Linked DNA regions of Homo sapiens. The protein of the gene in region 3 purifies or fractionates together with the protein of the main gene of each other region. This does not show direct contact. Each region holds a gene or a part of one and is shown on either strand. Other genes may lie near its edges.

Region 1 (7,024 bases), on a different chromosome or scaffold from region 3:
ATCAGAGCTTTCTAAGACATCTTGCTGCACCTCGGAGCTCCGGTGTGTGAGCAGTACTTGTTGAGTGCCAACTTGAATGTTGGGCTCTTTAGAGCAACACTAGGCTCCACAGGAGAAGCCCTTGAGGGTGCCTCAGAGGTGCTCACCAACCAGTTAAGGAGCAATGTTTCTAATGGGAAACATTTAGAGTAGGGTTCCACATGGCAAATTATATTCCTCATTGAACAAATATTTGTGGAGGGCATAGGGTGGACCAAGCTGGACATCTTGCAAGAAAAGAGTAAGACATCAATTGAAAGCCATAAGCACGCACCAGATCCCAAAGGGCTGTGTATGCCAGTGGAGGTGTTTGGCTTTTATTTTAAAGGTGATGGGGAATCACTGAAGAATTTTGAGCTGGAGAGTGAATTGACCAGACTTAGGTTCGGGAACAATCGTTTGACTATGTCAAGAGCTGCTGGATTGTGGTCAAGTGCTACACTGTGTGATGCTATCTACAAGTCTTTCAAGAAATCATTTGCACTTTTAGTCTATATTCAGGAATACAGTATAAAGAGGATGAGTTCCTGAGGCAAACAGAGCTGGGTTTTAATCCCACTCTGCCACTTACTGGCTGTGTAGTCTCGAGCAAGTTATTTAAATAGGTGTGAGACTTTAGTTTTTTTTCTGTACAATGAAAATACTGATACATAACTGACAGAGTTTTGATGATAAGTAAAGACACTAATGTACCTGGACGTTTCAAATAGTCCTCCCACCACCATTAGATACACCCAAATCAAAATGGCACTTTCAAGCCTAGGAGGAAGGCCAGCTGGCATCCTAAGCCTTCATTTAGCTGGAGATATTGTTGCATTTTCTTCTTAGAATTTAATCTGAGAAATTTTTGCTAATGTGTGAAAATAATTGGCATTCATTCCTGTAAATGAGGATGCTGAGGTAAACTGAGGTCAAAGCCAAATCTTGGATCGGAATCAAACCACCCAAAACCAATACTGTGGAAAATAAAACTGGGTCACAAAGACCAGTGTTATGAAGCGAGAGTTCCAATCGTCCTAGCAACCTTTTAACCAAACACTGGTGCAGATTTGCTGGCCTACATGACGGTGAGAACATCTGGCCTTTCTATTATCCTCTTGCAAGCAAAAAACGATGTTGTGTAAACTGATCTTTAGGCCAATTATATGGTCTAAATGTTACCGTGTTTATGCTGGCACCTCTGACTCCAGGTTTTAAGAACTTATTGTAACCACACCCCTCTTACAAAGACTGTGGGTCTTACTGTATATTACCCCAGGGATTTATTGATGCCGAGTCTGCACCTTTTTTCAGGAAGATAAATTCAACATCAGTCAAATTGTGTGCAGTGCACTGTGGGAGGTCCTATAAGAAATAAGTTACAGGACTTGGTGGCAACAGGAGGAGAGAACAAACATAAGAGTGCAGGCTCTAGGGGCTGCTTTGTTTTTCCCTACAATTTTGCTACATTTTTTCCTATTTACCAGTTGTATTATAGAAGCCAGATGTGGAGTATAGAAGCTCTAGTCTGCAGCTCACTCAGAAGACACTAAACTAGGAGTTGGAACACCTGATACCACCTCCAACTGGCCTTTCCACCACAGACAGGGTCTGATTGTGTCTGCGCATCCCCACCTGCAGAGAGACAGCATTAGACTACTAAACACAATGCGCCAGGCACTGTTCCAAGCCCTTCATAACACTGATTAAGGGAGTCCTCCTAATACCTGTAAGTGACAGGCGGTATGATTACCCCCACTTCACATCACACTGTGGGGTGTCCCACAGTGGGGGCCACGCAGAAGCTCTGAGCTTGCCCCTCCCCTCTGGCTGCTCGATGAGAGCTCTGGGCTTTTGTGCTCAGCTCTAAAGGACCAGGTGGTGGGGAGTGAGGGGAGGGTCTATAATGAACCACAGCACAATGCTCTGGATTAGGTGACCCATGGGCGTACCCCTAGGGTGTTACTGACCAGAGGAAGGAGGACTCTTTGCCTCCACCATCACCATTTTACCCCACCCCATCTCCATCCCTCTGCTGCTCTGGCCAAGACACCACGGCGGCAGCTGGAAGTGCTGACCTCAGGTCTTCCTCCCCACCTCACTCCCCCACAGCCCCCACTGCCCTCTTTCATCCCATCTTCAGGGGACAGATGTGAGAGACCATCTTTTAGTCTGTGGATGCTTTCAACTTTTTTGAAAACCCCTGGGAATCCTAACATGGATTATGAACAGAGATATTGGCAGAAGAAGGCTGGGAGCTCCCGATTTTGTCTCTGGACAAAACAGCCTCTGGTAAAAACAGTAGAGTGACTTATTTCAATTGAAGAGAATAAGTACATGAGCTTCCGGATTCATTAATTAATTAGCCTCCCCTCTCGGCCAGCCTGGTGGCCAGCTCTAGAAGACATCTGAAGCCAGATGAGCACTCAACCCCAGGCACCAGCAGCTCCTTCCCCAGGATGAGGGTTTCCCTTCATCTTTCAAGGACATGAATCTCTTGAGCCTCTCTGTCTGACTTTGCATGTCTAGGAACGAAGGGCAGAACAGATAGCACAGTAAATCCCAGCTCTAAATTGTCGTCATGGGAATTCATCACAGATGGTAATCATTAGGGCCCTCACATCTTAAAGGAAAGCTTTATCCAGAATCATAAATAAACTGTAACCAAGGCTTAGATTTATAAAGCTATAAAAGAGGGCAGCTTGAACAGCCGGGAATGTACAGTACTGGGTTACAAAATCGGCATCATGCCTGAAAGGCTGGACATAAACCCGGGAGCTCTGGGCAGTGCAGCGAGGAGGGGGTAAATTCTTTCTGCAGTGGGTGGAACCCCAGTCACAGCCTCCCCGGCTTAGCACCTGGTTTAATCACATGAAATGCAAGCTCAGAGAAACAGGGGTGCTGGCATCTAAACATAGCATTGCAACTCCTAAACCAATTGCAGTCCCATCAAGTTTGGCCCTTCCTCACCAAGATGCCCTCTGACTAATGCTATGTCCTAGGAATTAATTTTCACTTTATTGCTAAGGTTTCCCACCCCCTACTTTTCCTGAGTGGCTCAAACAACTCCGTTTTTACCAAAAGTCCCTGTACCATGCAGAACACCCTGTGAGGCTGTGAGTTGTGGAGCAGCAAAGCACAAAACAAGGCTGCAGCCTTCCAGAAGTTTCTTGTCTGGCCAGGGAGGCAAGGCATTTACAGATGAAACAACTGTAGTATGCAGGCTGCAATGTGTGGTGTAGGCTGTAACTAGAGAACTCAAGGAAGCAAAGGGTAAGTGGAGGCTGGAGTCACTGTGGGGGAAATGTTTGGGGGAAAAGGGACATGATTTATGACTTGAAGGATGCACAGGGCTGTGCACAAGGAGGGAAGGTTTGCTCAGCATGTGGCTTGTCCCTTCTGTGGCCCATCCTGAGCCAAGTCTCTAATAGCACACTCTCATTTTCCTCTTGTCCTAGAGCTAATTTAAGCAGCAATTGTTCCCCAAATTCCACACCTCACCCTCTTCATTCTCATTCAAGCTCATCCCTAAAAGGCCTGGAAAGGGAAACTCTGTGCTCTCTGGACATATCTCGTTCAGGCTGGACACCACAGGATAACTTCCATCCTGGAGCATGTGGCCAGGAACAATTCCACACCCCAGCCCCAGGCCCAGCATAGAGGGCAGCCTCAGAGAGGAGCAACCCCACCTCAGCCGCTGTGGGGAGCAATTCTGTAGGCATCCAGACATGCCAGAGAGAGAACAATAAGATACCCCACAGGCATGGGAAGTGAGGGAGGCCAGGAGCCCTCAGAGGGGTGGGTACCCACCCAGGCAAGTGGCCAAGCGAAGAGAGCTCACGCCAGCATGGAACATGGTGAGCAGGAGAACCCCTGTCTCCCCTCCGTTGCAGAGCTGAGTGTTGCACAGAAGTTCCTGAGTACCAGATGAGACTAGTGGGTATCTACTGGGGGACAGAGAAAGCATGCCTGTGACTCTGGAGAGCAGAGCAGATACTATAGGGGAGACAGGGCTACTTAAGGCTGGCTTTGGACGCTGACTTTCAGGAGGCTGCTTTAAGGGGTTCCAGGGTCTTCTCTGCATTGTTCAGTTGAGTACCCAAGAAGGGTAGGAGAAAAGCAGAATTCAGGGCAGATGCCTGCTTGGCAATAGAATGTCCCCAGGTTGTATTTCTTAAGGTACACAGGTTGTCAGTTCCTGTGACAACAACTAAGGCTACCTGCACAGGTGCAGCCGCGTGTAGAAGAGGGATTCCCACAGCCAGAACAAGGGCAGGACAAACTGTTTATTATTTACTAGCACTTTGGAGAAGGCAAGGCGTGGATGAGGAAGCTGTATTGATCACATCAGTAGAGATAGCTGCCTCCTTCATTCATTACCGGGAACAAGTGTTTGAGGGGGCACAGACGAGGTAAATGCATCAGGGCCTCCATGACAACTCCAATCACAGAATCTAGCTACATCCTTGAATTACAATATAGGAGAAGCTCGTGGTGTTAACCTTCTGCCATTTCCAGGCATGTAACTGAACTAATCAAAATAAATTACTTTTGTTTATGAAATATGAGGATCCCTTCCAGAAGGCAAAGTAGCAGCAGGAAGAATAATTCTGGAGTCTATTTTGGGTTAGAATCACCAACCCCATCTCTTCCTAGTTGTGTGGCCTTGAAAAAGTAACTCCGCTTTTCTGAACCTCTGCTTCCTCATCTGTGCAGTGGAACAGCTAATAATACCCGGTTAGCAGGGCTGTTGAGGAGATTCAGTTTAATGACCTCTGTACACAGCACCCAGTTAAGGTCAGTCTCATTCCCTTTCTCCCACTTGAGAGAGTTAGACTCCAGGAAAAGATGAATTTTAACAGTTTTGCAACACAGTCCAGGAAAAGGAAGTGGGGAGCTCACTTGTCCTCAAGTTCTACTATGTGCCACTAGAGAGTTGTCACCAACAGGGGCCAGCTTTCCACATATTGCTTGCAAGCCGCCCACCACAGCACCACAGGCCCTGATGTGAGGCCGTCCGCTCACGTTTCCTTCTCTCCAATTCTTTTCTAGGGGCGCTGCATCAACTTCACCAGGGTCAAGAACAACCAGCCAGCCAAGTACCCACTCAACAACGCCTACCACACCTCCTCGCCGCCTCCTGCCCCCATCTACACTCCCCCACCTCCTGCGCCCCACTGCCCTCCCCCGCCCCCCAGCGCCCCTACCCCTCCCATCCCGTCCCCACCTTCCACCCTTCCCCCTCCTCCCCAGGCTCCACCTCCCAACAGGGCACCTCCTCCCTCCCGCCCTCCTCCAAGGCCTTCTGTCTAGAGCCCAAAGTTCCTGCTCTGGGCTCTCTCAGAAACTTCAGGAGATGTTAGAACAAGTCTTTCCAGTTAGAGAAGAGGAGTGGTGATAAAGCCCACTGACCTTCACACATTCTAAAAATTGGTTGGCAATGCCAGTATACCAACAATCATGATCAGCTGAAAGAAACAGATATTTTAAATTGCCAGAAAACAAATGATGAGGCAACTACAGTCAGATTTATAGCCAGCCATCTATCACCTCTAGAAGGTTCCAGAGACAGTGAAACTGCAAGATGCTCTCAACAGGATTATGTCTCATGGAGACCAGTAAGAAAATCATTTATCTGAAGGTGAAATGCAGAGTTGGATAAGAAATACATTGCTGGGTTTCTAAAATGCTGCCTTCCTGCCTCTACTCCACCTCCATCCCTGGACTTTGGACCCTTGGCCTAGGAGCCTAAGGACCTTCACCCCTGTGCACCACCCAAGAAAGAGGAAAACTTTGCCTACAACTTTGGAAATGCTGGGGTCCCTGGTGTGGTAAGAAACTCAACATCAGACGGGTATGCAGAAGGATGTTCTTCTGGGATTTGCAGGTACATAAAAAATGTATGGCATCTTTTCCTTGCAAATTCTTCCAGTTTCCAAGTGAGAAGGGGAGCAGGTGTTTACTGATGGAAAAGGTATGTTGCTATGTTGATGTGTAAGTGAAATCAGTTGTGTGCAATAGACAGGGGCGTATTCATGGGAGCATCAGCCAGTTTCTAAAACCCACAGGCCATCAGCAGCTAGAGGTGGCTGGCTTTGGCCAGACATGGACCCTAAATCAACAGACAATGGCATTGTCGAAGAGCAACCTGTTAATGAATCATGTTAAAAATCAAGGTTTGGCTTCAGTTTAAATCACTTGAGGTATGAAGTTTATCCTGTTTTCCAGAGATAAACATAAGTTGATCTTCCCAAAATACCATCATTAGGACCTATCACACAATATCACTAGTTTTTTTTGTTTGTTTGTTTTTTGTTTTTTTTCTTGGTAAAGCCATGCACCACAGACTTCTGGGCAGAGCTGAGAGACAATGGTCCTGACATAATAAGGATCTTTGATTAACCCCCATAAGGCATGTGTGTGTATACAAATATACTTCTCTTTGGCTTTTCGACATAGAACCTCAGCTGTTAACCAAGGGGAAATACATCAGATCTGCAACACAGAAATGCTCTGCCTGAAATTTCCACCATGCCTAGGACTCACCCCATTTATCCAGGTCTTTCTGGATCTGTTTAATCAATAAGCCCTATAATCACTTGCTAAACACTGGGCTTCATCACCCAGGGATAAAAACAGAGATCATTGTCTTGGACCTCCTGCATCAGCCTATTCAAAATTATCTCTCTCTCTAGCTTTCCACAAATCCTAAAATTCCTGTCCCAAGCCACCCAAATTCTCAGATCTTTTCTGGAACAAGGCAGAATATAAAATAAATATACATTTAGTGGCTTGGGCTATGGTCTCCAAAGATCCTTCAAAAATACATCAAGCCAGCTTCATTCACTCACTTTACTTAGAACAGAGATATAAGGGCCTGGGATGCATTTATTTTATCAATACCAATTTTTGTGGCCATGGCAGACATTGCTAATCAATCACAGCACTATTTCCTATTAAGCCCACTGATTTCTTCACAATCCTTCTCAAATTACAATTCCAAAGA
Region 2 (7,024 bases), on a different chromosome or scaffold from region 3:
GATTGCCTTTCATCTACTGATTACTTTGGATGGAATTAACATTGTTACAATATTGACCTTGTTTACTTCTAATCTATGAACATGGAATGTCGTTATTTATTTATTTAACTTTTGAGACAAGGGGTCTTGCTCTGTGGCCCAGGCTGGAGTGCAGTGACATGATCATAGCTCACTACTGCCTTGAACTCCCAGGCTCAAGCGATTCTCCTGCCTCAGCCTCTTGAGTAGCTGGGACCACAGGCATGCATCACCACACCTAGCTAATTTTTAAAAACTTATAATAGAGACACAGTCTCACTATGTTGCCTAGGCTGGTCTCAAACTCCTGAGCTCAAGCAATCTTCCCACCTTGGCCTCCCTGAGTGCTGGGATTGTAGGCGTGAGCCACCATGTCCTGCCTCCTTCATTTATTTACATCATCTCTATTTCTTCTCTGTAGAGGTTTTACTTCTTTTTTATTAGATTTACAATCTCGGCTCACTGCAGCCTCCACCTGCTGGGTTCAAGTGATTCTCCAGCCTCAGACTTCCGAGTAGCTGAGATTACAGGCACGTGCCACCACACCTGGCGAATTTTTGTAGTTTTAGTAGAGACAGGGTTTCACCTTGTTGGCCAGGCTGATCTCAAACTCCTGACCTCAGGTGATCCACCTGCCTCTGCCTCCCAAAGTGCTGAGATTACAGGCGTGAGCCACGGCGCCTGGCCCTAGGTATATGCTATTCTAAATAGTGCCTTCATATATGCTATTCTAAATAGTGCCTTCAAAATGTGATTGGCTGTGCTGGTGTGTAGAAATACAACTGATTTTGTATTCAGAAAGTTTGCTAAATCTGTATGTTCTTTAGGATTTTAGTACATACACTCAGGTCTATGATAATGAGTTTTTCCTTTCCTCTGCAATCTTATTCTGTTTATGTCTTGCTGCACTTGGCTAGGACTTTAAGTTGAATAGACATGATAATAAACATCCTTGTCTTGTTAGATCTGAAATGAGTGTGTATGTACAGTCAATGAAGTAGAGGAGTAATACTTTTTTCCCCTAATTGTTAAACCAGTTGTTCAGTTGTCTTCCAGTCCTAGCTAATCATTACAGTCTCCTTTGGCATTTCTGTTTTTTCTTTATTTTTTCTTGGTAGAGATGAGACTTCACTATGTTACCTAGGCTGGTCTCAAAACTCTTGGGCTCAAGTGATCCTCCCACCTTGGCCTCCCAAAGTGTTGGGATTACAGGCATGCACCACCACACCTGGCTAATTTTTGTATTCCTTTTTTTTTTTGAGACGGAGTCTTGCTCTGTCTCCCAGCCATTCTCCTGCCTCAGACTCCCAAGTAGCTGGGACTACAGGCACCTGCCACCACACCCGGCTAATTTTTTGTATTTTTAGTAGAGACGGGGTTTCACCATGTTAGCCAGGATGGTCTCAATCTCCTGACCTCGTGATCCGCCCACCTTGGCCTCCCAAAGTGGTGGGATTACAGGCGTCAGCCACCGTGCCCAGCTTGTTTTTGTATTTCTAGAAGAGATGAGGTTTCACCATGTTGGCCATGCTGGTCTGGAATTCCTGACCTCAGGTGATCCTCCTGCCTCAGCCTCCTGAAGTGCTAGGATTACAGGTGTGAGCCACCTCGTCTGGCCCCTTTGGCATTTCTGACCCTTGCTTGCTCAGTGATGTGTATCCCTCAGTGTCTGGAGCACATTGTGAAGAAAAATGCAAGGTTTATGGTTTTTATTGTTTTAATTTTATTACTTTAACTACAGGTAAGGTCTTGCTATGTTGCCCAGGCTGGTCCGAAACTCCTGGGCTCAAGCAGTTCTCCTGCCTCAGTTCTGAAAGTGCTAGGATTACAGGTGTGAGCCACCGCACTCGGCCATCTATGTGCTTTTAAAGTTCCACAGGTGGCTAGGTGTGGTGGCTCACGCCTGTAATCCCAGCACTTTTGGAGGCCAAGGCAGGCAGATCACGAGGTCAAGAGATCAAGACCATCCTGGCCAACATGGTGAAACCCTGTCTCTACTAAAGATACAAAAATTAGCTGGGTGTGGTGGCATGTTCCTGTAGTCCCAGCTACTCGGGAGGCTGAGGCAGGAGAATCGCTTGAACCAGGGAGGCGGAGGTTGCAGTGAGCTGAGATCGCGCCACTGCACTCCAGCCTGGTAACAGAGCAAGGCTCCGTCTCAAAAAAAAAAAAAGTTCCACAGGTGACTGAGCCGTCCTTTGAGAACCAGTGAGGTAGTGTCAGGGATCTGAAGTGATTGAAAATGCCGCTTATATATTCAATCCTTGGATCCCTTTGATGAATTTTTGTATTCTGCTCTTTTATATGCCTGTAATCCCATGTTTTTTAAACCATTGTGCTCTGGCCTTTCTTGCTGTTTGAGCGTAACTTCAACTGTTATTGCCGTGAGCAGTCTTCTCAAGCTCCTCCTGGGCCCGGCTTCCTGATGGTGGCCTCACTGAACTGTTCTGCTGCTTACCACTTGTCTGAAGCTTCCTCTTTTCCCTTTTTGAACTCTTATTAAGCATTGCTGGCTTCCTGTTTGTACTTATATGATGTAGCTGGTACTGGGTAAGAAATCACTAGCAGCTTTTCAAGTAGGAAAGACGGTCTGAGGTGACAGTTTAGTGGCTTTGTAATTAGGCTCAGCACTTACGAGACTATTTGCAGTGTCCGCTCTGTGCCATCTACTTTGCTGCTGGTCTGTGGAGGAAGCAGAGATGAAAACACCGTCTTTGCTGTCAAGAACTCACCTGGTGGAAGAGGCAGATGTATGGATAATCATCACATGATGATAAATGCCATCGTTGTTGCAAAAGTCATAAACGTTACGACAGCATATTTTTAAAATGAAGTTAGTAAATTAAAATAGAAAATTTAATAGAAGCAAGACTAAATTAGTTTACTGGGTTATCTTCTTTAATTTACTTCTATCCTCTCCGTAGACAGTCTGGCACAGGTTTGAATGTGTCCTGGCTCTTCATTACTGAGGCTAACGTTCCACCTAATATATGCAAAAGTGTGTCCATCCCTTCTACCTTTATTCGCATTCCATTACTTTTATAGACTTTTCTTCTTTTGCTTTCATAATTAATACTGGCAGTTGACTTTCTTTTCAGGGGTCTTTCTTCACAAACAAATTTTTTTCATTTTCTTTTCTTTTTTTTTTTTTGAGACAGGGTCTCACTCTGTCACCCAGGCTGGAGTGCAGTGGGGCAATCTCAGCTCACTGCAGCATCCTGAGTAGTTGGGACCACAGATGCAAACCACCACACCCAACTGATTTTTCAGTTTTTTTGTAGAGACAGGGGTCTCGCTATGTTACCCAGGCTGGGCTCAAATTCCTGGGCTCAAGCGATCCTCCCACCTTGGCCTCCCAGCATGCTGGGATTACAGGCATGACTAACCATTTAACCATAAAGAATGTTTTTTTAGTCACTTGAAAAGAGACTTTGTCGTGTTGAGGGTCAGATGCTAAGTTATCAGCAGGCTCAGTCATGTCCCTCTTGATTTTTAGCTCTGGAAGAGAAATGGCCCCAGTTCATCACCCTTCTCTAGCCCAGCCTCCTCCCGCTCCCAGACACCGGAGAGGCCAGCAAAGAAAATAAGGTACTTGGCATTCTCCTGCAGTTTTCATTTGCTGCGTGGACAGGCGGGGGTGAGGAAAGGTGGGAAACGAACCTGGCTCTTAGGCTTTGTGCTGCTGTGACTTGGAGAATCAAAGAAACTTAAGTCCCTGAGAGGTACAATGCAGTACCCACCCGAAGTGCTGTCATCCCTACAGTCTTGGATACTGACTCCAGTGGCCTCTGGCTGTCGCCTCCCACTCCAGCATGAGGGATCGGGTGCAAGCACAGAGGCCATGCAGAGTGGAGAGCAGAGAGAGTCAAGTCAGCGGGCAGTCGCCTTCAGGTTCTTGACTCGAGCTGACCCCCTAGGTGCTTGCAGTTGGCTGGAATGCCACTCCCTCAGGGATCACATCTGTGTCTAGAACTCCCAGGGACTTGATAGGTTGTAAGTAAGGTTTGAAGATTATTGTTTTGTGCTTGTTTTAAGACAAAAGCTGTCTTCATGGCCTCTGTGAACAGCCTCCCTTCATTCTGTTGGAATTTCCTGTTGACTTTTTTTATCCTGGCATACTGAGATCTTAAATGATGGTTGTTTTAGACATTGGCCACTTGGTAGTTAGGAGGGTGTGAGAAATTATTTAATACTTCAGCCAAGAAGCCTTTCTAGACTAAATTGTTCCTTTTTTCCTGACAGAGAAGAGGAGCTGTGTCATCATTCCAGTTCTTCAACTCCATTGGCAGCAGACAGGGAGTCCCAGGGAGAAAAGGGTAGGTTGCTGAGCCAGGAGGAGGGGCTGCTGTTGGTGGTGGAGGTGTTTGTGGAGGATGTAGAGATTAATACCTATTGAAAAAAGGTCTTGAGCATTGCTATGTCTAAGGCATGTTAGATACAAAGAGAGAGATTTCCTCTCCTTCAGAAGTTTATAGTCTGATGAGGGAGAAAGGCTACAGACAGGGACTAACGATTGGATAGAGGTAAGCTCAGTTTGAGTCACCTGTGGGTGATCCCAGTAATTACTGCACAGTAAGCGGTTTGTGTGCGCGCCTTAATCTTGCAAACACCATCCAAGCAACCAAACCATAGAAGATTGAATCTTTTCAGAGATACCCATTGAAAACTCAATGTGAAATGCGAAGTGGGTAGACACAACCATCCATTTCTGGAAGAGGGAAGGAAGCAAACGAGTCTTGATTTCTTTCTTTAGCTGCAGATACAACCCCAAGGAAGAAACAAAACTCGAATTCTCAGTCTACACCTGGCAGCTCTGGGCAGCGTAAGCGGAAAGTTCAGCTGCTGCCTTCTCGGCGAGGGGAACAGCTGACCTTGGTATGGTCTTGTCCATCTACTCCTGCCCTCCCCGGCTTAGCTCTCCTAAGTATTAGGAACGCTAAGGACAAGTTTCTTCTGATTTTTTTTCTAATTTATTTTTGTTTTTGTTTTTTGAGACAACATCCCTCTGTCACCCAGGCTGGAGTGCAGTGGCTCGATTTTGGCTAACCGTAACCTCTGCCTCCTGAGTTCAAGCAATTCTCCTGCCTCAGCCTCCCAAGTAGCTGGGATTACAGGTGCTTGCTACCACGCCTGGTTGATTTTTTGTGTTTTTAGTAGAGATGGGGTTTCACCATGTTGGCCAGGCCGGCCTCAAACTCCTGACCTCAAGTGATCCAGCTGGCTTGGCCTCCCAAAGTGCTGAGATTACCGGTGTGAGCCACCATGCCTAGCCTTCCCGTTTTTTCTGATTGGCCTGACTTCTTCTTTTTCACTTTGGTAGCCTCCACCTCCCCAGCTTGGCTATTCGATCACTGCCGAGGACCTAGACTTAGAGAAGAAGGCTTCATTACAGTGGTTCAACCAGGCCTTGGAGGACAAGAGCGGTAAGGAGCACAGATTGTTGCACACTGGAGAGGTTTCAGGTGTCTGTTTTCTTTGGTTTTATTTTGGTGTTTGAAAAAATGGGTTTCTCTGGGAAAATCCCAAGTAGGGTTCCATGTTTTCTTGTGGTCTTTCTCACCTGAGATATCCGTGTTGGTCTTCACGGGAACTGGACAGCAGGGACCACTGCAATTGAGGGCAGGCATTCCTCCATGAGCTGTGCTGAGAGCCTGCTCTCCGACAGGCATGTGGAAAGAAGTCCCAGACAAGCCAGGACTGCTTCACCTTTCTTTCTTTCTTAGATGCTGCCTCGAACTCTGTCACTGAGACCCCACCTATCACTCAGCCTTCATTTACCTTTACCCTGCCTGCTGCTGCACCTGCCTCCCCACCCACCTCCCTCCTGGCCCCAAGCACCAACCCACTGTTAGAGAGCTTGAAGAAGATGCAGACTCCCCCGAGCCTGCCACCCTGCCCAGGTGAGCTGGAGTGGGGCCGTGGATCCAGCCTTCTGAGCAGCATCCCCGGCTTGAGTTGGAATAAGGGCGTCGTGCCTGTCAGTCGCTGGAGATTGCTCTGCAGGCCGAACGCACCCTGGCTCAGCACACCGGAGCGGGCCCACGTTTAACAGCGCCAGAGCCCGCATCAGGAAGTGTTAGAGAAGGGGTGCTGCGACGCTCAGGATCTGAAGCCTGGCTCGTAGCTGCCCTGAGCCTCGCCTTCCTCATCTGTCAGATGAGAATGATCTTCCCTGTGCGGCACCTCTGAAGTGTGAATGTGGTGGCGTGGTCAGGATATCCTTGCCTGTCAGAACCACTGGTCCAGAACAGCACTGCTTCCTTTCCCTCCAGCACTTCGAGGGCTGCTGGTGTTCCCGGCCCAGGCCTTCACGGCACTGCGCGCGCACACCTCTTTATCAGACGGTAACCTGGGGTTCGTACGCACCCTCCCTGCTCAAGGGCAGAGACTTCCCCATTCATAGTTGTGTGCTCTTAGCGCCTGGCAGGTGAGCTTAGTAGGCAAATAAAGTATATCTAGATTCATACGTGAACTTCAGAGTTCAGACAATTGGACTGTCTTAGTCTCTACACATTAGGCCCCCATTTAGGCCCCATTTTATCCCCTTCTGTCTGATGATCTGTGAGGTAGAAATAACACTTCCTTGATTTACTGTACAGGCCTGTAGTGTAGACTTAGCTGAGTTTATTGACTGACTCTTGGATCCCAGGCTCTGTGGTAGGCGTGGGGAGGACACTGAAATACTGAATACCATCATCTTTGAAGTGTTTATTCCAATTTCACATTTTCTATTCTTCTTCCAGAATCTGCTGGAGCAGCAACCACTGAGGCCCTCTCACCTCCAAAGACACCCAGCCTCCTACCCCCGCTGGGTTTATCACAGTCAGGGCCGCCAGGGCTGCTCCCCAGCCCCTCCTTTGACTCCAAACCCCCGACCACTTTGCTGGGGCTGATCCCTGCTCCATCCATGGTACCAGCCACTGACACCAAGGCACCTCCAACCCTTCAGGCAGAGACGGCTACCAAACCCCAAGCCACATCTGCCCCGTCCCCCGCCCCCAAGCAA
Region 3 (7,024 bases):
TTAACTTTATATAATTGAGTCAAACGTTATAGATTCTTTGCCCTATTCCTTCTTTCAACTAACATCATTTTTATAACATTCATCCTGCAAGTAACTGTTTTCATCTAGTTTTAAAATGTAACCAGAGATTGTTGCCTGGACCATCGGGTTATAGGCATTTCTCCATGGTGGGGAAAAAATTTCGGTAAGCTATTTAGAAGCTGGGCTTTTATTATTTTTTTAGGGACAGAGTCTGGTTCAATCACCCAGGCTGGAGTGCAGTAGCGCAATCATAGCTCACCACAGACTTGAACTCCTGGCTTCAAGTGATGCTCTGACCTCAGCTTCCCAAAGTCCTGTGATTACAGGCATGAGCCACCACACCTGACCTAAGTAGTATTATTCATAGATTTATAGAATTTTTTCTATTTTTTTTTTTTTTGAGACAGGCTCTCGCTCTGTAGCCCAGGCTGAAGTGCAACAGCGCCATCATGGCTCACTGCAGCCTTGGCCTCCAAGGCTTGAGCAATCCTCCCACTTCAGCCTCTCGAGTAGCTGGGACTACAGGCGTGCACCACCATGCCCAGCTAATTATATTTTTTTTTAATTTTTTTTTTGTAGAGACGAATTATATTTTTTATTTTTTCTCACTATGTTGTCAGGCTGGTCTTGAACACTTGGTCTCAAGCCAAGTGTCCTCTTGCCTTGGCCTCCCAAAGTGTAGGGATTACAGGTGTCAGCCACCACACTCAGCCTAATTTCATTTTTAAAGTAAAATTTACTGCTTTTTTTTTAAATACTGAGGGAGCACGCACATAATCTCATTGCTCAAATCATATCTCTAAGCCAGGGGTCGGCAAACTAAGCCATGGGCCAAATCTAGCCCACCACCTGTTTTTGGATGGCCTCCAAACTAACAGTGGGTTTTACATTTTTAAATGATTTTTTTAAATCAAAAGAAAATACTTTGTGACACATGAAAACTGTACAGTATAAATTCAAATTTCAAGATCCATAAATAAAGTTTTATTGGAACACAACAGTGCACACTTTGTGTGTCATCCACAGTGGCTTCCACACAACCATGTCAGAGCTGAGTGGCTACAACAGAGGAGCTCTGGCCTGTAAGACTATGGGCCTGCTCTGAACGTTGCAGTAGAACTAAAGCTAGAGAGAACCCACCGCCTGGCCAGCTGAACAGGGAATTTAGAAAGCAATACCAGAGTTCCATAGCTGCCGAAGTACTCTTCATCCTGCCACGTGTCCTCGGGGTCGTACTCATCCACGTGCTTCCCCACATGGTTTGCCGGAATGTACCCACAGCAGCCCGCACGCTCACCCCACCACCAATCTGCAGTGGTTTGTCTCAGGATAAGAATTTTTTCTCCTCTCAAAAAACTGAGCTGGAAAAAAAAAAGTTAAAATTCAATAAGAAAACCAGTCATTGGTATTTCAAATGTGGCTCAGTGATAAATCCCATCAATGGTGACAAAATCACAGAGATTTCAAACAGGAGTCAGTGGGTAATGACAGCAACTGAGAATGTTTGCAAGTGACACCATGACTTAGCGATGCCTCTGGAACATCTACCTGAAAGGAGGGCACAGCTTAACAGATATTTTTTAAAAGAAGGAGTAAACATTTTCAAATGGCTTAGGAGAGAATTTCTCAACAGCCTCTTCATTGTAACTCAACTATGCCAACTGAGTTACTGGAGGCTGACTCTAAGAAATTCCTGTCACAAAGTAAACAAAGCTATGTCCAAGCAGATATAGCTTGATATATTTGGTAGCCTTACTTTTCATTAACTGGGTGGGTTCTACATTCCAAGTAGAAACCAGAACAGGTGCTTCTGCCCCTGGCTGAGGGTCCCCACTCCATGCCTCGTATCTTTACATCATGCTTGAGGCAGAACTGGCTGGGCTGTGAGCTTCACACACAGGTCTTGTGTGGCCCTACGCATCTGAATACCTCTTCATTTAACTTTGGTGTGACGTCTGCAAAATTTATCTCCTTTTGACACTGAACATGCTGAAAGCCATAAAGCATTAACCACCACGTGTGGCTACCTGGGTCTCATCGGTGGCAGCGTAGTCCGCGATGGCCACAAACTCCTCTGGCTGTACTCCCTCCTGCAGGAGACCGGCCTCACTGCACTCAGCAGGCTCTTCTCCCTGCTCAAAGCCAAGGAAAGCGTGAGGAGAGGACGCTGGAGCTTTTTTTTTTTTTTTTTGGCTATATTATTAGGATGGTTTCAAATTTCAAATACAGATTCATGTGTCCAAGTATTTATTATACAAACTATTTGGATCATCTTTACTACTATAATCAAAGGCTGTCACCTTCACTCTACATTTCTTTTCTAAAAAAAAAAATTATCTGGACCCTAAAAGAGAACATCAAAGCAAGAAGTCAGAAACAGGCACCACTAGTGTCTATTTGGTGAGGAGCCCTTGTCCTTCATCAGCTTTGCTTCCTGAAGGTGATCATCAACCCCATGAAGAGAAACCAGTGTGAGGACAGAGCCAGGGGCCCAGCGCCCCAGGCAGGCACAGCCAGGGGCCTGTGGAAAGAGCTGATGGCATGGCACAAACCTCCACGAGGCAGCAGAGCCCAGCTTGGACCCACACAGGTCCTTGGAGCCTCCCCCAACCCCTCCATTTTTTTTTTTTTTTTTTTTTTGAGACAGAGTCTTGCTCTGTTGCCCAGGCTGGAGGGCAATGGCATGATCTCGGCTCAGGGCAACCTCTGCCGCCTCCCAGGTTCAAGTGATTCTGATGCCTCAGCCTCCCAAGTAGCTGGGACAACAGGTGTGCACCACTACACCCAGCTAATTTTTTGTATTTTTAGTAGAGATGGGGTTTCACCATGTTGCCCAGGTTGGCCTCGAAATCCTCAGCTCAGGCAATCCACCTGCCTCATCCTCCCAAAGTGCTAGGACTACAGGCATGAGCCACCATGCCTGGCCGTTCACTTTATATAAGAATAAGCTTGCCTGGAAGACATCACTGCAGGGGGCAGAACCTCAGATCACACACTCCAGTTCAATGAATCAACCTTGTCTCAATACATACATTTTAAACACATTTTCCTAAACATAAAAGTAATTCGTGTTTACTTTAGAAAATGTGTGAAAACACCAAGTACACAGAAGAAAATTAAAACCTCCTGTAATTTTGCTCACTGATCACAGATAATAACAGACAGCACATTGGTGTTTATACTTTCAGACTTTTAAAAAAGTGGACACGTAACATAAGTACAAAGCATTCACTGGGTTCACACAATAAGCCTGTGGCCTATGGTTTTCACTTTATAAACTCTGAACATTTTTCTTATTAAATATACTTCTAACACTATTTAATATCCAGTCTATGAATTATCAGGACTTACCTATCCAGTTTCCTAGTCTTGTACATTTAGACTTTTCAGTTTTTACTATTCTAAATCATGTTAAGATGAACTTCTTTCAACATAAATCATTCTGTATGTACCTTAATCTTCTTAGGGTAAGTCTCTGAATGTGAACCTGATGGACTGAGACTATGTGGCTTTTGGTTTTACCACCCAGTGCTCTCCAGAAAGGTGTTCCCTGGACCGCTTGCTGAGAGGGAACCACCAATCTTCCCACACTCTCACTCAATAGATACCAATCACTTTAGTCTCTGTCAATTTCATGGGTAAAAATCACTGTTGTTACTTCCATTTCCCTCTCTTTGTGTGGTTAGGCGTTTTTAAAATACTTGCTGGCATCTTTTTTTACCTTACTGTCTATTTGTACCCTTCGTGCTTTTCCCTATGCCAGGAGCATGACTCACTCTAAGGCAGCACTGCCCTCTGCTTGCTCTCCACCCCATCCCCGATCCACCCAGCCCAGGCAACCCTTACTAACCCCCCGGTGTGCGGCCTTCCACACCTCCACCATGCCCATGTCACACACAAAGCCCTGTGTACACGTATACACACACACACACACACACACACACACAGGCTGTTTCTTTGTTTGGCTTTTTTTTTAGGATGGAGTCTCGCTCTGTCGCCTAGGCTGGAGTGCAGTGGCACAATCTCGGCTCACTGCAACCTCCACCTCCCCAGTTCAAGCAATTCGCATGCCTCAGCCTCCCGAGAGGCTGGGACTACAGGCGTGTGTCACTACGCCCGGCTAATTTTTGCATTTTTGGTAGAAATGGATGGGGTTTCATCATGTTGGCCAGGCTGGTCTCGAACTCCCCACTTCAAGTGATCTGCCCACCTGAGCTTCCCAAAGTGCTGGCATCACAGGCGTGGGCCACCACGCCTGACCTGCACTTTGCTTTTCTTACACAATACCTTCTGGAAAAACTCTCCAACTGTTAGAACCCTGATTTACTACCTTCAATGGCTATACGATATTCCATAGCAGGAATTCCGCTTGATTCTTCAGCCATCCCCCTTTGATAGACTTTGTCTTGGTATCCAGTTTTCTACCACCATAACCGATGCTGCAATAAAAGAAGTCTGTGCACAGACAAGCTTATGTGATGACATTTTATTTCTGCAGGATAGAATGCCAGGGTTGAAGAATACGCTTTTTTTTTTTTTTTTTGAGATGAGGTCACCCTCTGTCACCCAGGCTAGAGTGCAGTGGCATGATCCTGGCTCATGGCAACCTCCACCTCCCAAGCTAAAGCAATCCTCCTACCTCAGCCTCTCAAGTAGCTGGGACTACTCTTGGTACAATATAGATACTATTTCACATCTCAAGAAATTGTTTTACAAACATATTGTTTTCCCAGTTATCTTGTTTATGATCAGCGCCTCAAGAGTCAGGTCAACAGAAATTTTCCAAACTGAAGCACAAAATGAAAAAAAAAATAAGAATAGAGCATGAGACATGTCAAACAGCAGCAAAAATTCTAACTTATGTTTACATGGAGACCCCAAAAAAGAAGACAGAAGATGAGGCAGAAAAAAATAAATGAAGAGATAATGGTGGAGATTTTTCCAAAATTAAAAAAAAAAAACCATCAAGGCCAAGGTGGGCAGATCACCTGAGATCAGAAGTTTGAGACCAGCCTGGCCAAGATGGTGAAACCCCGTCTCTACTAAAAATACAAAAAATTAGCCGGGCGTGGTGGTGGTCACCTGTAGTCCCAGCTACTCGGGAGGCTGAGGCAGGAGAATGGTGTGAACCCAGGAGGCGGAGCTTGCAGTGAGCCGAGATCGCATCACTGCACTCCAGCCTGGGCGACAGAGCGAGACTCCGTCTCAAAAAAAAAAAAAAAAAAAAATGTAGGCAAAACACATTTCATAGTTTGACACAGCAGACTCACACTAGTAAATATAAACATAAAGTTGTCAGGTTGAAGGGAAATGATCCTACATGAAAACACAGAATGCAAGAAAAAGGGAAAGACCTCAAAAAAGGCAAATAATATGTGGGGAAACATAAAAAAGACTATTTATTTTACTTCATAAAAAAAGACTCGATAGCGTAAAGCAATAATGATAATTTATTGTGGCGTTTACAACATATGTAAAATTAAAATGTTACATCAACAGTACAAAAATATGGACGCTGGTAAATGAAACTAACTTCTAAGATCTTTACCTTATGAAGTAGTTAAAAAAAAGACTGAAATTGAATTAGGATGCATACTGCAATTTCTTGGGAAAACACTAAAACAATATAAAAAGATACAGCTAACAAGCTATTAAAGGAGGTAATATGGAATTATAGAAAATCCTTTATTTATCCACAAGAGGGCAGGAATGGAGACATGCAGGAAAAAGAAATGTGACAAACATAAAACAAACAGCAAAATGTTACACTTCATCACATTCGTCATAACATGAAGTGTTAATAGACTAAATACTCCAATTAAGAGGCAGAAATTGTGTTTAACAGAGAAACAAAAAAACAGACCTAAGAGCTAGACCCAACTAGCTCTTTACGAGAAAAACGCTTTAAATATAAGGACTTAAGTTGAGGGAAAAAAAATACACACACACACACACACAAACACACACACACACACACTTTATGTAAGCACTAATGATAAAAAAAAAAAGCTGGTACAGCTATATTAGCATTAAAAAAAAGGTACACGCAAGAAAAGAAGTATTTATTAACAGGTAAAAAGACAGATGTTTTATAAAAAATAAGGTCAATTAATCTAGAAAACAAAACCTATACTAAATATATACACCCAATAACAGGGACTCAAAATATACAAAGCAAAAAGTGATAGAACCAAAAGGAAAAATAGATATATCTACAATCATAGTGGAGAATTTTTAGTAACTGATAGAAGATGGCAAAAAAAATCAGAAAAGATATAGAGATTTCAACAATACTAATAACACATTTGATCTTCATGACATTTATAGAATGCTACACTCAACAACTGCAGAATACATAGTCTTTGCAAGTACTCATGGAACACTCACCAACATATTCCATATGATTAGAACATAAAGCAAGCCTGAATAAATTTCAAAAGACTGAAATTATAGAGGATGTTATGTTCTCTAACCAATGTAATCAAAGCAAAATTAAATAAGAAAAAGTAAAATTTCCAATATGTTTAGAAATTGGTCAACATACTTTCAAATAGCCCAGAAAACTTCTAATTTCCATTGAATATATTAGAAAATATTTTGAAGAATGAAAATGCATTTAAATATGTGAGGTACAGCTACAGCAGTGATTAGAGGAAAGTCATAGCTTTAAAGACTATTAAAGAAAGGTTTAAAATCAATTATCTAAGCTTCCCTCTCAGATGTTATAAAAATTAACCCAAATACAACAGAATGAAATAAAGACAAAAGCAGAAATCAATGAAATAGAAAAACAGAGAAATCAACACAGATAAAATTGGTTCTTTATAAAAATAAAATTGATAAAACCCTAAGAAAAGATTGATCAAGTGTGAAAAAAAGAGATAAAACACAAATTACCATTATAAGACATCTCTTCTATAATGGAGGGTGGTATTAACAGGATGAACACAAGTATTACTGAAATACTACCATGACCAGTCAGCAAAATTGAAATAACAAAATA
Region 4 (7,024 bases), on a different chromosome or scaffold from region 3:
GTTGGTGTACACGGTCACCCTCATCAACAAGGTGTGGCCAAGGACTGGGTGCCAGCTCTGGGATGCTCAGGCTCCTGACCTCCCCACCAACCTCAGCCTTGCCTTCTTATCCCCGCCCTCCAGACGCTGGCGGCGCTCCCGGACCAGGACTCCTTCTACGATGTGACGGATGCACTGGAGCAGCAGGGCATGGAAGCGCTGGTCCAGCGCCACCTGGGCACTGCGGGCACTGACGTCGACCTGCGCACGCAGCTTGTGCTCTACGAGGTGGGCCGGGCCTTACGCTCTGAGGCGGATTGGAAAGAGGGAAGAGAGAAGCGCAGTCCCCAGCGCCCCACCCCACCTGCATACACGTTAACCACTTTCTTACATCCTGGTCCGCCTCTGCTAGAACGCCCTGAAATTGGAGGATGGAGACATCGAAGAAGCCCCAGGCGCTGGTGGGCGGCGGGAACGACGAAAGCCTTCTTCTGAGGAGGGCAAGAGGAGCCGCCGTTCTCTGGAAGGCGGGGGCTGCCCCGCGCGTGCCCCGGAACCTGGGTAAGTACGAGCATCTGTAGATGGGAAAGGGTGGATCTACTAGGCATGGCCCAGTGAGCTGACAGGCCCTGACCCCAACCCCCTCAGGCCCCGCCCCACAGACAGCCCCCACCTCCTCCACTGGGCCTGCCCTACCGACATGCCCCACCTCCCGCCCCGCAGGCCCCACCCCACTGACAGGCCCCGCCTCCAGCTTCTCAGGCCCCGCCCCACTGACAGCCCCTGCTTTCAGCCCCACAGGCCCCGCCTCACCGGTAGGCCCCACCTCTTCCACCGGCCCCGCCCTGCTGACAGGCCCCGCCTCCAGCCCTGTGGGCCCTCCCTCCGGTCTCCAAGCTTCAGTGAACCTTTTTCCTACCATCTCTGTGGCACCCTCAGCTGACACCTCCAGCGAGAGGAGCATCTACAAGTAAGTAGGGAGACAGAGGCCACCCTGGAGTCCTCTCTCCCATTGTCCCTCCGCTTTGCGCCCCTCCATGGGCACTCAGCCTCCTCTGCCCAAACGCGTGCTTTCTCTCTCTCTCTTTCCAGACTTCACCAAACTGCTTCCGTTTGGTAAGTGACTGCCAGCGGGTGGGGTTCGGCTCTGACTGGATCTCCTCCTCCTGTGGTTTCCTTTGTCTCCTCCGACGTTCTGCCTGTCTTTGCCTCTTGTCATGTCTCCCGCCCACTATCTGTCACTCCCTTGTTCTGCTGCCTCTGTCTCTTCCAGCACCCTGTCCTGCTCCACGTCAGTCTCTCCCCTCCACTTCCAGTTTCCTCGTGTCATACCTTCCCCCACTTCCCACTGCGGCTGGGAAGGAACCCCAATATCACTGCCTAGCTCTGTGTGGGTATGAGCAACCATGGAGCTGACACCACAGTTACCATCTCTTCCTCTCATCCCCCCTACCCAGGGCCCCTGAGAGCCCACCCGTCCCCCAGTCCCCTCCTGGGCAGGCCAGGCTGGAGTAAGTACAGAGGCCGGCCTGCCAGGCCTGCCATGTGCTCAGGGCTTCAGCATTGCTTCCCCCAGCAGGGGTTTCACGTGCCTGATGCAACCAAAGCTGGGGGACTCAGGCCTATCCTCTCCCAGACATATGCCTCCTCGGTAACCCAAAGGCTAAGCACTGGGAACCAATTCACTGGGGTCACAGTGGTCCCTGTGCTTCAATAGCAACACCTTAGCAGCCAGAGATGGGGATGTGGACACCCAACCTGGGGCTCATTCTGCCAAGTCTTCAGCTCAGAAGCGAGCAGGGAGGGGACCTAGGGTGCTGTGTGGTGTGTGGTGTGGGGGTGGAGGGGTAACCTAAGGCTGAGGGAAAGGCAGGGACTGAGAGCTGACAGAGGCTGGAGGGGCCAGAAAAGAAACACTGGATTGCACCCATTATTTCAGCATAAACTGAGGGTCCACTGTTTACCACATCCGTTTTTTTTTTGTTTTTTTTTTTTTTGAGACAGAGTCTTGCTCGGTCTCCAAGGCTGGAGTGCAGTGGTGTGATCTCAGCACACTGCAACCTCTGCCTCCCAGGTTCAAGCAATTCTCCTGCCTCAGCCTCCCAAGTAGCTGGGATTATAGGCCTGCACCAGGATACCTGGGTAATTTTTGTATTTTTAGTAGAGACAGGGTTTCACCATGTTGGCCAGGCTGGTCTCGAACTCCTGACTTCAAGTAATCCACCCACCTCTGCCTCCCAAAGTGCTGGGATTACAAGCGTGAGCCACCGCACCTGGCCTGTTTACCAGGCCCTTTCCTGGGCATAGGCTCCCAGAAGCTACCAGACATGCCAAGGGAGGGACAGCCTGATATGCCCATTGGGACAGCTATCCCCTTCCCCTGCTCTAAGAGTCCTTGTCTAGACTCAAGACACCAGCCTGGGCAACACAGTAAGACCTCATCTCTACAAAGAAATTTTTTAAAATTTGGCTGGGTGCATCATTCACACCTGTAATCTCAGCACTTCAGGAGGCTGAGGTGGGAGGACTGCTTGAGGCCAGGAATTCAAGGCCAGCCTGAACAACACAGTGAGACCCTGTCTCCTCAAAAAAATTAAAAAATCAGCTGGACGTGGTGGCACATGTCTGTAGTCCCAGCTACTTGGGAGGCTGAGGGTCAAGCCCAGGAGAGTGAGGCTGCAGTGAGCTATGATCACACCACTGTACTCCAGCCTGGGTGACTGACAGAGTGAGACCCTGTCTCTAAAAAAAAAACCAACCAAAAAAAAACCAGGACAGTGAACATGAACGAGGTTGCAAGTTAGATGTTAAGTAGATCCTCTCCCTGTGTTTTCACCTGGGAATGCTGGGTTGGTAGTAATCCTCCCCAGATGTGGAGGACTGAAGAGGGGCTGGCCTTGGGGGGGGTGTGGTTCTGGTCTGCTCAGCGCATGGACTGTTCCCTGTGTGTCTGTGCGTGCCTGCAATTGGGGGTGGTGTCCAGGGGCTCAGCAAGGCATGTACACCTGGGCTGGGGTGTGTCAGACGCTGTCAGTGACAAGCACCTTCCCTCAGAGCCCGGTTCCTGGAGAATGTGGCGGCAGCAGAAACAGAGAAGCAGGTTGCGCTGGCCCAGGGCCGGGCAGAGACACTTGCCGGGGCCATGCCCAATGAGGCGGGTGGACACCCAGGTGAGTAGGTGGGTGAGCAGGCAGAGCCTGCCTGTTGCTTTGTTGCCCCACAGGGGGCATGGCACTGACAGCTCCTTCCCTTTCTTTAGATGCCCGGCAACTCTGGGACTCCCCAGAGACAGCCCCTGCAGCCAGAACACCCCAGAGCCCTGCCCCCTGTGTCCTGCTCCGGGCCCAGCGAAGCCTTGCACCAGAGCCCAAGGAGCCACTGATACCAGCAAGCCCCAAGGCTGAGCCCATCTGGGAGCTCCCTACCCGTGCACCCAGGCTCTCTATTGGGGACCTGGACTTTTCAGATCTAGGGGAGGATGAAGACCAGGACATGCTGAATGTAGAGTCTGTGGAGGCTGGGAAAGACATCCCAGCTCCCTCACCCCCACTGCCCCTGCTCTCGGGAGTACCCCCCCCTCCCCCACTTCCACCTCCCCCACCCATCAAAGGCCCCTTCCCACCACCTCCACCTCTACCTCTGGCTGCCCCTCTTCCCCATTCAGTGCCTGACAGCTCAGCCCTCCCCACTAAGAGGAAGACAGTAAAACTTTTCTGGCGTGAGCTGAAGCTGGCTGGGGGCCATGGAGTCTCTGCAAGCCGCTTTGGGCCCTGCGCCACCCTCTGGGCTTCACTGGACCCTGTCTCAGTGGACACGGCCCGACTGGAACACCTCTTTGAGTCTCGTGCCAAAGAGGTGCTGCCCTCCAAGGTAAATCCACTCATCTGCAAGGTAGCCCCAAGGGAGGCAGGAGGGAATCAGAGCTTAAGGATCTGACCTGTTGGAGCTAGTCACTCACTTCCCACATGGGGAAACCAAGGCAAAGAAAGGAGTAGGAAATTGTCCAAGGTCTCCTAACAAGGGATCAGCAGTGCCCCAACTAGAATCTAAATGTGGCCGGGCATGGTGGCTCACACCTGTAATCCAAGAGTTTGAGACCAGCCTGTGCAACATAGTGAGACATTATCTCTACTAAAAGTTGGTCTGGGTGTAGTGGCTCATGCCTGTAATCCCAGGACCTTGGGAGGCCGAGGCAGGTGGATCATTTGAGGTCAGGAGTTCGAGACCAGCCTGGTCAAATTAGCAAAACCCCGTCTCTACTAAAAACACAAAATTAGCCAAGCGTGGTGGCGGGCACCTGTAATCCCAGCTACTCGGGAGGCTGAGGCAGGAGAATCACTTGAACCCGGGAGGTAGAGGTTGCAGTGAGTCGAGATCGCACCATTGCACTCCAGCCTGGGGGACAAGAGCAAGACTTCGTCTCAAAAATAACTAAATAAATAAAAATAAATAAATGTTAAAAAAAAAATTAGCCGGGCATGGTGGCTCACCCCTGTAATCCCAGCACTTTGGGAGGCCAAGGCAGGCAGATTACTTGAGGCCAGGAGTTTGAGACCAGCCTGGCCAACATGGTGAAACCCCGTCTCTACTAAAAATATGAAAATGAGCTGGGCGTGGTGGCTCATGCCTGCAATACCAGCTACTTGGGAGGCTGAGGCAAAAGAATTGCTTGAACCTGGGAGGCGGAAAAAAAAATGTTAAAAAAAAAAATAGTTGGGTATGGTGGTACACGCCTGTAATCCCAGCTACTTGGGAGGCTGAGGCAGGAAAATCCCAGAAGATAAGCTGCAGTGGGCGATGATGGCACCACTGCACTCCAGCCTAGATGGTAGAGCCAGGCCCTGTCTCAAAAGAATCTAAGCTCATCCCCATGACTTACACATTCCAGGTTGCCAGTTTGTCAGTTGTGGGATCATTTGGCAATCTAGAGGAGGGCCTTGGAGTGCCCTCTGAGGTTGCTGTCCCAGCTAGTCCCTTCCTCAGTCTTTTTTTTTTTTTTTTTTTTTTTGAGACAGAGTCTTGCTCAGTCACCCAGGATGTAGTGCAATGGTGTGATCTCAGCTCACTGCAAGCTCCGCCTCCCGGGTTCACGCCATTCTCCTGCCTCAGCCTCCCGAGTAGCTGGGACTACAGGTGCCCGCCACCACGCCCAGCTAATTTTTTTTGTATTTTTAGTAGAGATGGGGTTTCACCATGTTAGCCAGGATGGTCTCGATCTCCTGACCTCGTGGTCCACCCGCCTTGGCCTCCCAAAGTGCTGGGATTACAGGCGTGAGCCACCGCGTCAGGCCCCCTTCCTCAGTCTTACACTGCCCTTCCCCCAACCATGCAGAAAGCTGGAGAGGGCCGCCGGACAATGACCACAGTGCTGGACCCCAAGCGCAGCAACGCCATCAACATCGGCCTAACCACACTGCCACCTGTGCATGTCATTAAGGCTGCTCTGCTCAACTTTGATGAGTTTGCTGTCAGCAAGGATGGCATTGAGGTGAGGTCACCCAGCTATGGGTGTTGGGGGGAGGTCTGGCCTTCTCCTTTGGTAGGTGGGCATTTCCTGTCCCTCTGGTGGTGGGCATGGGCTTGGCATTTCTGCAGGGCAGTCCCCAGACACTGGGGCCTCCCCTAGATGACTGAGGGGTCAAGACCAATGCCTCAGGCCTCAGGCCTGCATTGAGGGGGCCATGTCAGGCTCTGGCTACATCCTCAGAAGCTACTGACCATGATGCCCACGGAGGAAGAGCGGCAGAAGATTGAGGAAGCCCAGCTGGCCAACCCTGACATACCCCTGGGCCCAGCCGAGAACTTCCTGATGACTCTTGCCTCCATTGGCGGCCTCGCTGCTCGTCTACAACTCTGGGCCTTCAAGCTGGACTATGACAGCATGGAGCGGGTACCTGGGTCTTGGAGTGGGACAGTCAGTAGGGACAGGTAAGCATCATGACCATGTAGTCTGAGAGTCCCTGGTCTCCCATACCAGGAAATTGCTGAGCCACTGTTTGACCTGAAAGTGGGTATGGAACAGCTGGTACAGAATGCCACCTTCCGCTGCATCCTGGCTACCCTCCTAGCGGTGGGCAACTTCCTCAATGGCTCCCAGGTGAGTGAGAGTACATGGGGACTAGGGGGAGTCAGGGTTCTGGAGCCAACCAGGCCCAGGCTCAGAAAGGGTCCTTTCAGAGCAGCGGCTTTGAGCTGAGCTACCTGGAGAAGGTGTCAGAGGTGAAGGACACGGTGCGTCGACAGTCACTGCTACACCATCTCTGCTCCCTAGTGCTCCAGACCCGGCCTGAGTCCTCTGACCTCTATTCAGAAATCCCTGCCCTGACCCGCTGTGCCAAGGTTAGCACCTGCCAGAATCAACCAAGGCCGGACAAGGCATGAGGAGCGCTGCTTCCTGGGCCTGGCTCCTCCCCCTTCTCCCCATTTGGGCTGCTGTGCCAGGGCTTGCTCCAGCCACCTGGGTGTGAGCTATGCCCTCTGCCAGAAATGCTCTTTCCTCTATTGGCCTGGCCACACCTACTCAGTCTTTGGGTCTGTTTAACTGCCACTTCCCCCAGTAAACCTTCTGCTCCCCATTCACATCAGATGGACTTGTGTCTCTTGCACTAGTCTATGAGATTTGGATGTCTGTGTCCTTAGGGCCCAAGCTGGCCACTCTGGCCCAGAAGCAGCCTCGGGCCATGTCTTGTCTACAGGGTGTGGGGGGACAGTATGTGCACCCCCTTGCTTTCTCAGGTGGACTTTGAACAGCTGACTGAGAACCTGGGGCAGCTGGAGCGCCGGAGCCGGGCAGCCGAGGAGAGCCTGCGGAGCTTGGCCAAGCATGAGCTGGCCCCAGCCCTGCGTGCCCGCCTCACCCACTTCCTGGACCAGTGTGCCCGCCGTGTTGCCATGCTAAGGATAGTGCACCGCCGTGTCTGCAATAGGTAGGGGCATGGACCCAAGAGAGGCAGGACGGCCACCACCCTCCCTCAGACAATAAGCAGGACTTACTGTCCCTCCCTACTCTGACCTGCCTAGGTTCCATGCCTTCCTGCTCTACCTG

The links.
Region 1: the proteins of PRMT2 (region 3) and ANTXR1 purify together in Homo sapiens (affinity purification with mass spectrometry; 4 studies listed by BioGRID and IntAct, with this or other methods). This does not show direct contact.
Region 2: the proteins of PRMT2 (region 3) and POM121 purify together in Homo sapiens (affinity purification with mass spectrometry; 4 studies listed by BioGRID and IntAct, with this or other methods). This does not show direct contact.
Region 4: the proteins of PRMT2 (region 3) and FHOD1 purify together in Homo sapiens (affinity purification with mass spectrometry; 4 studies listed by BioGRID and IntAct, with this or other methods). This does not show direct contact.

Annotation. Positions count from the first base shown.
Region 1 is NC_000002.12:69,240,155-69,247,178, forward strand, and holds part of ANTXR1 (anthrax toxin receptor 1 isoform 1 precursor), read left to right. Parts: intron 1-5,070; coding exon 5,071-5,331; 3' UTR 5,332-7,024. UniProt on the Homo sapiens protein: Plays a role in cell attachment and migration. Interacts with extracellular matrix proteins and with the actin cytoskeleton and thereby plays an important role in normal extracellular matrix (ECM) homeostasis.
Region 2 is NC_000007.14:72,935,076-72,942,099, forward strand, and holds part of POM121 (nuclear envelope pore membrane protein POM 121), read left to right. Parts: intron 1-3,514; coding exon 3,515-3,606; intron 3,607-4,260; coding exon 4,261-4,334; intron 4,335-4,771; coding exon 4,772-4,893; intron 4,894-5,338; coding exon 5,339-5,441; intron 5,442-5,741; coding exon 5,742-5,918; coding exon of another isoform or gene 5,919-5,936; intron 5,937-6,761; coding exon 6,762-7,024. UniProt on the Homo sapiens protein: Essential component of the nuclear pore complex (NPC). The repeat-containing domain may be involved in anchoring components of the pore complex to the pore membrane. When overexpressed in cells induces the formation of cytoplasmic annulate lamellae (AL).
Region 3 is NC_000021.9:46,638,664-46,645,687, reverse strand, and holds part of PRMT2 (protein arginine N-methyltransferase 2), read right to left. Parts: intron 2,154-7,024; coding exon 2,049-2,153; intron 1,383-2,048; coding exon 1,200-1,382; intron 1-1,199. UniProt on the Homo sapiens protein: Arginine methyltransferase that methylates the guanidino nitrogens of arginyl residues in proteins such as STAT3, FBL, histone H4. Acts as a coactivator (with NCOA2) of the androgen receptor (AR)-mediated transactivation.
Region 4 is NC_000016.10:67,230,482-67,237,505, reverse strand, and holds part of FHOD1 (FH1/FH2 domain-containing protein 1), read left to right. Parts: coding exon 1-31; intron 32-123; coding exon 124-267; intron 268-391; coding exon 392-540; intron 541-772; coding exon 773-949; intron 950-1,071; coding exon of another isoform or gene 1,072-1,095; intron 1,096-1,436; coding exon of another isoform or gene 1,437-1,490; intron 1,491-3,033; coding exon 3,034-3,149; intron 3,150-3,238; coding exon 3,239-3,849; intron 3,850-5,311; coding exon 5,312-5,467; intron 5,468-5,667; coding exon of another isoform or gene 5,668-5,686; coding exon 5,687-5,869; exon of another isoform or gene 5,870-5,870; intron 5,871-5,956; coding exon 5,957-6,076; intron 6,077-6,156; coding exon 6,157-6,318; intron 6,319-6,714; coding exon 6,715-6,905; intron 6,906-6,999; coding exon 7,000-7,024. UniProt on the Homo sapiens protein: Required for the assembly of F-actin structures, such as stress fibers. Depends on the Rho-ROCK cascade for its activity. Contributes to the coordination of microtubules with actin fibers and plays a role in cell elongation.